Regions from separate parts of the Homo sapiens genome. Here all the other regions are reported to be linked to region 3. The links are microRNA targets in miRTarBase. Many come from high-throughput screens and were not tested one by one. Region 3 holds a microRNA gene; each other region holds the end of a gene's coding sequence.

What was found. The annotated mature microRNA hsa-miR-6894-5p reads AGGAGGAUGGAGAGCUGGGCCAGA and lies in region 3 at 1,653-1,676, shown strand. An mRNA with a match to its seed (bases 2 to 7 or 8) in the 3' UTR can be bound and repressed. Matches are read on the target gene's strand: a 7mer-m8 pairs with bases 2 to 8, a 7mer-A1 pairs with bases 2 to 7 and ends in A, and an 8mer does both.
Region 1: the mRNA of DENR is a reported target of hsa-miR-6894-5p. The part of its 3' UTR that is shown has no 7-base or 8-base seed match.
Region 2: miRTarBase lists ATG13 as a target of hsa-miR-6894-5p. Seed matches in the 3' UTR shown: 7mer-A1 at 2,568-2,574.

Annotation. Positions count from the first base shown.
Region 1 is chr12:122,768,739-122,771,738 of GRCh38, reverse strand. DENR (density regulated re-initiation and release factor) reads right to left here. Exons shown (of 8, transcript NM_003677.5): 7 at 2,818-2,957; 8 at 675-2,705. The coding sequence ends at 2,661. Among named protein-coding and RNA genes, the nearest start is that of CCDC62, 4.3 kb to the left of the region's middle.
Region 2 is chr11:46,671,857-46,674,856 of GRCh38, forward strand. ATG13 (autophagy related 13) reads left to right here. Exons shown (of 19, transcript NM_001346311.2): 19 at 399-2,662. The coding sequence ends at 476. Among named protein-coding and RNA genes, the nearest start is that of ARHGAP1, 27 kb to the right of the region's middle.
Region 3 is chrX:53,197,377-53,200,592 of GRCh38, reverse strand. MIR6894 (microRNA 6894) reads left to right here and starts at 1,648; the gene lies at 1,648-1,704. It overlaps KDM5C (lysine demethylase 5C), which reads left to right. Exons shown (of 26, transcript NM_004187.5): 15 at 1,435-1,616; 16 at 1,705-1,829; 17 at 1,956-2,103; 18 at 2,717-2,822.

The DNA.
Region 1 (3,000 bases), not on the chromosome of region 3:
TAGTAAATAATGAGAACAGGGAACTAAAAGGTAAAATTCATCTTTAAAACAGTAATTTATCAACTTTTAAACTAAGAGTGAGAAAGCTACCACAGACTGGCTTTTATGTAGTAATAAAAAGTTTAAAATCACTTACTGTCAGCATCTGTTTTTAAAAAATGAAATACTTACCAAACTATATGCAAAAAGTATTTGCATTAAAAGTTGCCAGCTTAATCATGGAAAATCTCTTATAAGGCTGCTTAAAGGTTCATGTTTTTTACTAAAAATGGTAGACTGTGAGAATGTGTAAAGTCAATTTTTGAACTACTAGTACTTTTTTTTTTTTTTTTTGGAGACCAGGTTTTACTGTTGCCCAGGCTGGAGTGCAGTGTCGTGATCTCAGTTCACTGCAGCCTCAACCTCCCAGGCTCAAGTGATCCTCCCAACTCAGCCTCCCAAGTAGCTGGGACTGCAGGCGCACGCCACCATGCCTGGCTAATTTTTGTATTTTTTATAGGGACAGGGTCTTGCCATGTTGCCCAGGCTAGTCTTGAACCTGGACTCAAGTGATCCTCCCACCTCGGCTGGGATTATAGCCATGCATCAAAGCAGCTTGGCCCTATTAGTACATTTTAATCAGAGATTAAACTATGTTGCATTTTAAATTTCAGTTTAAAAAAATGATTCACACGTTATACACAAGGACAATTTTAATCCTGCATTTTCCTGGAGTAACATCCACTGCTGGCTATCTATGGATTGTAACTGCATTTGCTAAGAACTGTGAACACAAAGAAACTTTACATGAAGTCACATGTTGATACAGGCACACAGACATCTTTCAGCAGCAACAGACTACATACATAACGCATACCAGATAGTCTCGATGGATAAATCTGCTTCACCAGTAATTCTATTTAGTAAAATCCACAGTTAATGGAGAATTCCATTTTTTAATTTTACATCTTTACTACACATTTTTCTAATACTTTATTTTTAAAAAACACTCATTCAAGATTGTAATTTGCATGGCGATAAACAAGGGTTCCATGGGTTCTAAGTTTCTTAAAAGTGTCCACAGCAACTTAAAACACCACAAGTCTTCTTTCCAATTTGCAGCACCTGACTTAAAGTTTAAATTCATCAAATACATCATTAAAACTGTCATTTTCTCTTGTGAGAAGACATGTTTCAATTGCTATTTCCAGGACTATATATTGAGCATGGGTGTACAGTACTTTTAACTGGTTAGCACAATTTTACTCACATAATTTATAGCCAGAATAAGAACCTCTAGCCTCTCTGAACGGCCTTCCACTCAGAGCAGATGATGACGATAAATGTCTAAAATGTATCTGGGGTACTCCACTTGACATTACCAAACATGCTTCCAAATAATCTTAGAAAATATGATTCTTTAAACATATGCATAATATTCTACCACACAATGCACCATCACTTCTTTAACCATTTCCCAATTGTTCATTTATAACATTTGCAATTTTTTATTATAAATAATATTGTGATGAATACTTTCATCCATAAGTTTTATGCAAGGCTGATTATTTCTTCTAATGTCTTCTAATGTCAAAGAAGTGGCTTACGGGTTCAAACAGCGCACATACATGGTTTTAAGGCTTTTAGTATACTTTACCAAATAATCTCCAGAATAGCTCAAACAACTCCTACCAACAGTTATGTTATTGTGCCCACAGGGTGGACTTCATAACAACACAGCAAATTCAACCACAGATCTATTAGATTCTCACCCATCTCAAAACTATCACATCAAAGAAGCAAGGAGACATATTACTGGTGAGGAAGCCAAATTCAAATTCTTTTAAAAAATCACTCAGCTTTAGATCAGTAAAATTATCAACAAAAATGCTCCCCACAAAAAGTCTACCGGGTTTTTCAAAAAATAAAGTTAAAAAGAGAGAAAGAGAAACTCAGGCTGGGTGCGGTGGCTCACATCTGTAATACCAGCACTTTGGGAGGCTGAGGTGGGCCAATCACGAGGTCAGGAGTTCGAGACCAGCCTGGCCAACATAGTGAAACCCCATCTCTACTAAAAATACAAAAATTAGCTGGGCGTGGTGGCGGGCGCCTGTAATCCCACCTACTTGGGAGGCTGAGGCAGGAGAATCACTTGAACCCGGGAGGCGGAGGTTGCAGTGAGCCGAGATCGCACCACTGCATTCCAGCCCAGGCAACAGTGCGAGACTCTGTCAAAAAAAAAAAAGAGAGAGAGAGAGAGAGAGAAAGTCAGTACCAAATGACCAAAATTTTTTATTTGACTAAATTCTATTCATGCATGAGCATGACAGTCTCCCGTTTATTTGACTTTGGCAATAAAAAAACAAGCAGCCTTGTACAGAACAGTGAAAATGCCAAGGACGAGGACAGTCTACAGTTTTACTGTAGAATATATATATATGTATACATATGTGTATATATGTATACATATATGTGTATATATGTATACATATATGTGTATGTATATATATATACATGTATACATACACACATGTATATATACATGTGTATATGTGTATACATACATATATGTGTATATATACATATATATGTGTATATATATATATATTTTAAAAGGCCTCTCTCCCTTTGGCCATATCAACTCTCAGTTCAGGCCATTAAATACAGACAAATTTTCAAATTCACTTCTTTACTTCTCCAAGATCTTCGATGCTGTCATCATCTACCTATAAAACACAAATAATTATATCTCATGAGTTGTGGTTGCAATTAAGAAAAAATGGAAGCAATTTGCTTTAAAAACTTATCTCTAGCGATGTATGTGTTCCATGCACTCACCTCTGGCCATTTTTCCTGAATGACATCAATTATGTCATCTGTAAAATCTCCCTGAATGATAATTTCATCCTCCCCTGTTACTGAGGCACCACAGGAGAATTTTTGAGCAAAAAATCTTTGTGCTTCTTTAAGATCAATTTCTATTTTTTTAAAAAAAGAAAGAGCAAGAACTGTAATTGGAAT
Region 2 (3,000 bases), not on the chromosome of region 3:
TGCCCAGCAAAGGGTGTGAAGAAATCTTTTGTAAACTGTTTAATTTGTAGAGCTGTACACTTGGTATTTTATTCTAGTGTCAGTCAGATCTGTGCCAGGGATATTTCATGTTTAATTTCTGAATCATCTTGCTCTTGTGGTCCTTTTCTCTTTTGTTAAGTGTGTGGCCCACTTGGACTCCCAAGGCCGTTCCATTAATCCTCCAGCCCCTGCAAAGCCCTGATGCATATACCCCTCCCTACCCTGTGCCTACGCAGCTGCCCTGCGTTCTCCCACTTGCTCGGCCCAGCTAGGGCTGAGCTTCGTCTTGCTTGCTGCCTCCCCTCTTCGGGACTGGGCTGGCTGCCTCCTCAAGGCCCTGCCTGAATAAACGGCTCTTCCCTCTCTTTCCGGTACAGGACTCATTACCAGAGAAGCTGGCTGTGCATGAGAAGAATGTCCGCGAGTTTGATGCCTTTGTGGAAACCCTGCAGTAAAAGTATCCTTGAGTCCCAGCAGCACCCCCTTTTTGTGGCCCCAGGGCATAAGCAGCCTCCCATGCATCAGCTGCTCCCACCCCTCATCCTGCTCTGAGCCAGGTGGAAGGGAGGCTGGCTTCTCCCATGGGGACCCAGAAGTCCCTACTCTTGGACCTCCTGGAGACTCCGTGGCGGCAGTCAAGCCCAGTGCCCAGTTGGAGAAGACTCACGTGCTGGCCTTGGAGATGGGAAGAACCTTCGTACGAAAAAGCCCTCAGCAGGGCCATCTGTGTGCCCTGCCCATCACCAACTGCTTCCCAAGGGTGTCATCCTGTTCCTCCTGCTGCCGGCCTCCTGCCTGGGCCTGCCTTGCAGCTGGCCCCTTCCCTGCCTGCTGTCACCATCCACTGTTTGACATTCCAGCTGGTGGCCAAGAGATTGGTGTGGAGTCGCAGAAAGAGGAAGGAGACAGTGCCAGGAGGAAGAAGGAAGGAGTCCCTTAGCTCTCTTCATTGTCCCCTTTACTTCCTGCTATCTTCTTCTCCTCTTCTTCTCTCTCTTGCCTCTATGCCTGTATTTCTGGCAATATGACAGGCCTGCCTACCCAAGATCAGAACTCCAAAACCACTCCCACCCCTGAAGGTCGGGAGGGTCTGAGCAGCCCTGGTGGCTGCCTGTGCTCAGGTCCTCAGCTCCATGGGAAATAAAAATGGCACCCTGAATCTCTAGGATTTTGTCACTTGGAGTCACAGCAAAGTTCTCTTCCTCTTGTCCCCCCGTTGCTGCTCCTTGGTTATAGAACATGGTAAATATTTATTACTTTCAGAGAAACCAGATATTTTATAGAGGAAATATGTTTGAGGTGAGTTGTTTTTCACTTGGAGAAGGCGGAGGGCTCTTCCTGGGACGGAGACCTCCTCCTCCGGAGGTTATTGAGAATCCGGGCTGCTGCTTTGAGGATCTTCCCACCATACAGACAGCGAGATCCAAGAAGAGGGCTGGCCGGGGGCAAAGTCACCTCCCAGTGTGGCTGCACTGGAACTGACTAAAGGCTTTACCTTGGATAGTTGCGTATTCCTGGTGAGAGCCTTACATCTCCCACAGTTTCTGCAGAGTGACTGACTCCATTCTGGCAGCCCAGGAAGTCCTGGGTGCTAAATGTGATGGCCACATGTAGTGGTTAGGGGATGTTGTGTGTGTCCCCCAACTGCCTGGGTACTTGTTCCTGATCCCTGGGGCTGTCCTGTGGAGCTTTTCCTCCTGCTTGGGCCTAGCTACCATCTCCCTCTAATCCCAGGTTCTCTACACTGCCCTGGGGTTTACCAGCTGGATTGGCTTCTGGTTGAGAAATCAAAGCTGGGCGTATGATTGACTTAACCCTTCAGGTATTGTTACTTGAATAAGTCAAGTGCCTAGCCTCACCCACCTATGATCTGTCCTTTCCCAGCCTCGCTGGTAGTCCTGGTCAAGGAGATCTAGGTCTACTCCATTCCTCCTGGCCCACCTGGGGCATTCACTGGCAGCAGCTGTGCTTCAGTGGAGCAGGTGGTTCTCAGCTGCTTGTTAGTATACTGCATGTGACACTGTTCCCACATACAAGGCTGACTTCTGAGGATTGGAGCAGGCTCTGGCGGGGACCAGAGCTCTGCGTGCTGCTGCTGCCACCAAGAAGTGTTAGCAGAAGCAGTAGCAGCCAACTGGCCCTCCTGACTTTGGCCCAGAGCACATGCGTGGCTTGCTGAACCCAGGCTCAGGTTTATCCCCAAGGCCCCAGCTTTGAGAAGGGGGAAGGCCCCTGGTAAGTTATTGATGCCCCCATATTTCAGCTACTGCTCTCTTTCCAAGGCCTTGCATGGAAAGGCCTAGCCATTGTCTGAGGCAGCAATCTTTGGCATCTACAGGTGGCAGCAGCCTTTCACCAGGGCTCCATCTGTGAAGAGTCTCAGCCATGACTTTGAGCTGAGCTTGGGAGAAGTAAAGCAACTGTTAAGGCCAGCCCTTGCCCCTCAGACCTGCCATGAAAGGAATGAGCCCTAGACTGACTCCTGCAGCACCCCCGGGACAGGCTGGGACCAGCTGTTTGTCTCCAGGTGTCAGAGTCCCTCCTCCTCCTCCAACCTCTCCAACCTACTTTGTTTGGAAATACCGAGCTACACTTCAAAATGTATTCAAGGGATTTCCAATAAATTTTTTTCTGTACTTTACAGCCTCCTGTCCTGTAGGTTGTCTGAAGACCTCGTAACCCCTTCCCCACCCCTGCCCCAGTGCAGGTCTGGGAAAGGGGAGAGTGGTGCGTTGTGAAGCGCAGAAAGACCTCAAGTGTCTGGGCAAGCCTGTTTTGAGTCGGGTGTGGCCTCTTAGGGGCTGTATACCCTGGGGTTTCCTGGGTCAGGAAACTTCTTAGTATTTCTCTTTCCCTGGTCCCCTATCAGGGGCTTGAATTTGAATATTCAGTTGGAGAATGCATTTAAAATACACCCATAGTAAAATCTCCATAAAATGCAGGCCACCGTTATCAGCTCTTTATTGCTCTTACATAACA
Region 3 (3,216 bases):
CTCTCAGTCGTGGTGTAAGTTGTTGAGTCCCTGGGCTTTTCCAGGCATCATTTTCTCACTCTGTTCAGTACTGTTATTAAATGATGGCCGTGTGGCTGTGCCAAGCTGTGGGAAGGAGCCAAAGCAAGGTGGGGAGAATAGACCTTCTCATCTTGACATTCAGAATTCTTCACACTTGGCCCTTACCTCAGAGAAGCATTCTGGACACCATAGTCTTGGAATCCTGTAAGAGATTGTATGTGTATTTAAGTATGTTTCTGGGAAGAGGACTTATAGTTTACATCCAATTCTCAGGAGTCTGTAGTCCAAAAAAACCCTAGAGACTTCATCCTTAGAATATTCTCTGGCTTTAGAGTCAAAATTAACTCAGTTTGGCAAGTTACTGACCCTGAGACTTAGTTTCTGCCTTAGTAAAATGAGATAGGCCTGTGGAATATATATTCTTATCTGAAAATTAGAGCTAATAACAGTAAATATTTGATGAACACTGAATCTAAGTGCTGAGATACTTGTCTGATTCCATAGCTGCTTTATTTTTGTTAATCCTCATAACAACCCAACAAGGATGATACTGTTTATCTCCATCTTACTAGATAATGAAACAGACCCAGAGACGTTAAATGATTTACTCATGATCACACAGCATATAAGTGGCAGAGTGGGATTTGGGCTCATAACTTATGCAGAGATTAGGTGTTAAAGTTGGTATGTAAGACAAAAACTGTTAAGAGTTGACATTTCCCATTAAAATCCCTAAAATTGCCCATTAGATATACACACTGGGTTGTCTCTCGATTACTCCAATATAGCCAGCTTTTCCTTCATTTTTGAAATGGATTGCTTTTTCTTTATCTGAGCAACAGATGAAGTCATTGGATTAGGTTTGGAAACCATATTGTTGGGAGAAAATTATTATATCTCTTTAAACCCTGAACACAAGCACATACGGTTGAATTTCTCTAAGTTATATATGTGCACAAGTATCTCCTGCCTACTAAGTGGCCAGCGTGGTGCCTGGAACACAGTGGGCTCTGAGTAACTGGAAGCCGATATTGTTCCCCAGTACACATAACTAGCCAGGCCTGTCCCTTGGCCACTTGCACTCATTGCCACCTCTCTGGTATCTTGGTCCACCACTTTCCTCACTTCTCACCCACAAGACCCTTTCTGCTGATCTGGATCTTACCTGATTTTTCTTCCTCTATAAAATTATCTGACTCAGCGCACACTGATCTTGCCCTGGTTTATCTGATTCCCCAAGCTTTGAGAGTCTAGACTTTACAAAGGGCAGGTATGCTCCCTGGGGTTTGGCCTCTTAAACCCCATGACCCTCAGCATAGATTTGAATCTAAAGTAGGGGTCGGTGGTGGCTGAGATGGAGGATTTTGCTACCTGGTTCTGGTTATATATAACGCATAGGTTAAATGCCCTTAGGGTATCACAGAGGCTGAGCGAGAGGCTTTCGAGCTGCTCCCAGATGATGAGCGCCAGTGTATCAAGTGCAAGACTACGTGTTTCCTGTCAGCCCTGGCCTGCTACGACTGCCCAGACGGCCTTGTCTGCCTTTCCCACATCAATGATCTCTGCAAGTGCTCCAGTAGCCGGCAGTACCTGCGGTGAGCATGGGCCTTTCTGGAGGAAGTGGGGCAAGAAGGAGGATGGAGAGCTGGGCCAGACATGCTCTTGCCTGCCCTCTTCCTCCAGGTATCGGTATACCTTGGATGAGCTTCCTGCCATGCTGCATAAGCTGAAGGTTCGGGCTGAGTCCTTTGACACCTGGGCCAACAAAGTGCGAGTGGCCCTGGAGGTGGAGGATGGGCGGAAGCGCAGTGAGTGATGGGGGGGATGGAGGGACTCCACAGGCAAGTTCTATTCCCTTTCTTCTGTACTCTGACCCCCTTCCTCTGCCTCTATTCAATACTGCCTACTCTTTGCTGCCCTCATTTTTCTTCCAGGCCTTGAAGAACTGAGGGCACTAGAGTCTGAAGCCCGTGAGCGGAGGTTTCCTAATAGTGAGCTGCTGCAGCAACTAAAGAACTGCCTGAGTGAGGCAGAGGCTTGCGTGTCCCGAGCTCTGGGACTGGTCAGCGGCCAGGAAGCTGGGTATGACAGCGTGAGGAGTTAGGGCACACATAAGGTGCTGAGGATCCAGCACCGAGGAAAAGTGCTGCAAGGGGTAGACTGTGAATACCATTTGGCAGAATGGACATCAGCAGGAAGCTGCCAGGCACAAGAGTGTGAGATGGCCTGGAAGGTGTTGGGGGGGACAAGGAGACCAGGCCACCTAAAAAGGAGAGGAGAGCCTCTGTGATAAGAAAGCTAGAAGTGTTTATTTTTTATCAGTACCTGGAAGTGGCCTGAGAGAGAGGCTGAGGGGTTTTGTGGGCAGGGAAGAGTTGTGGGAGGCTTACGGGTAAGAACAGGACAAAGATGTATAGACCTGATCCCTGCTAACACAGCTTTAGAGTTCACAGTAGAGGATGGATTGCAAAGTGTAGCTCTTATTACAACCCATTAGTTTCTAATTCTTTCCCCTCATAATATGAACATGCTCTATAATTTAAAACCTTCCCTCTAACCTGGGCAATTGGGGCAAATTTGAAATATGCGAGATCAAGGTGGACAGGTGTAGTGAGGAAAGGTGTTCAGTCTTAGCATAGACATGGAGGGAAGGCACTGAGTTTGGACCTGAAACCTCACATGTGATACTTCATAGCCCCCACAGGGTGGCTGGTCTACAGATGACCCTGACTGAGCTCCGGGCCTTTCTGGACCAGATGAACAACCTGCCTTGCGCCATGCACCAGATTGGGGATGTCAAGGTGAGGACGCTTGGAGTGCTGATGAGGGATCAAGGGGACCAGGGGACCTGAGCAGCAGGCCATGCTTGGCTCCTTTCAAAAGCTTAAAGTGTTCAGGCAAGACAGGACACACGTGTGAGAAAAGAACAGGTGGGAGGGGTGAGGCAAGGGTCTAGTGACTTGTCTGTTAGAAATGGGCCTTGAGGGTCAGGTGGCAAGGGTATGGGTATAGGATACAGAGTCCAGGTAAGGTTTCCTGGAGGAGGGGTAGAGGAGAAGGAGGTAACAGGGGTGCTTGTTGGGCTTGGAAAGTGGAGGGAAATTCATGAAGGTGGAGGAGGAGTGAGATGGAGAGGGCAACAGACCCCAGGGTGGTGAGCACAAGGGTTTATGTGAGGACTAATCATAGCAATTT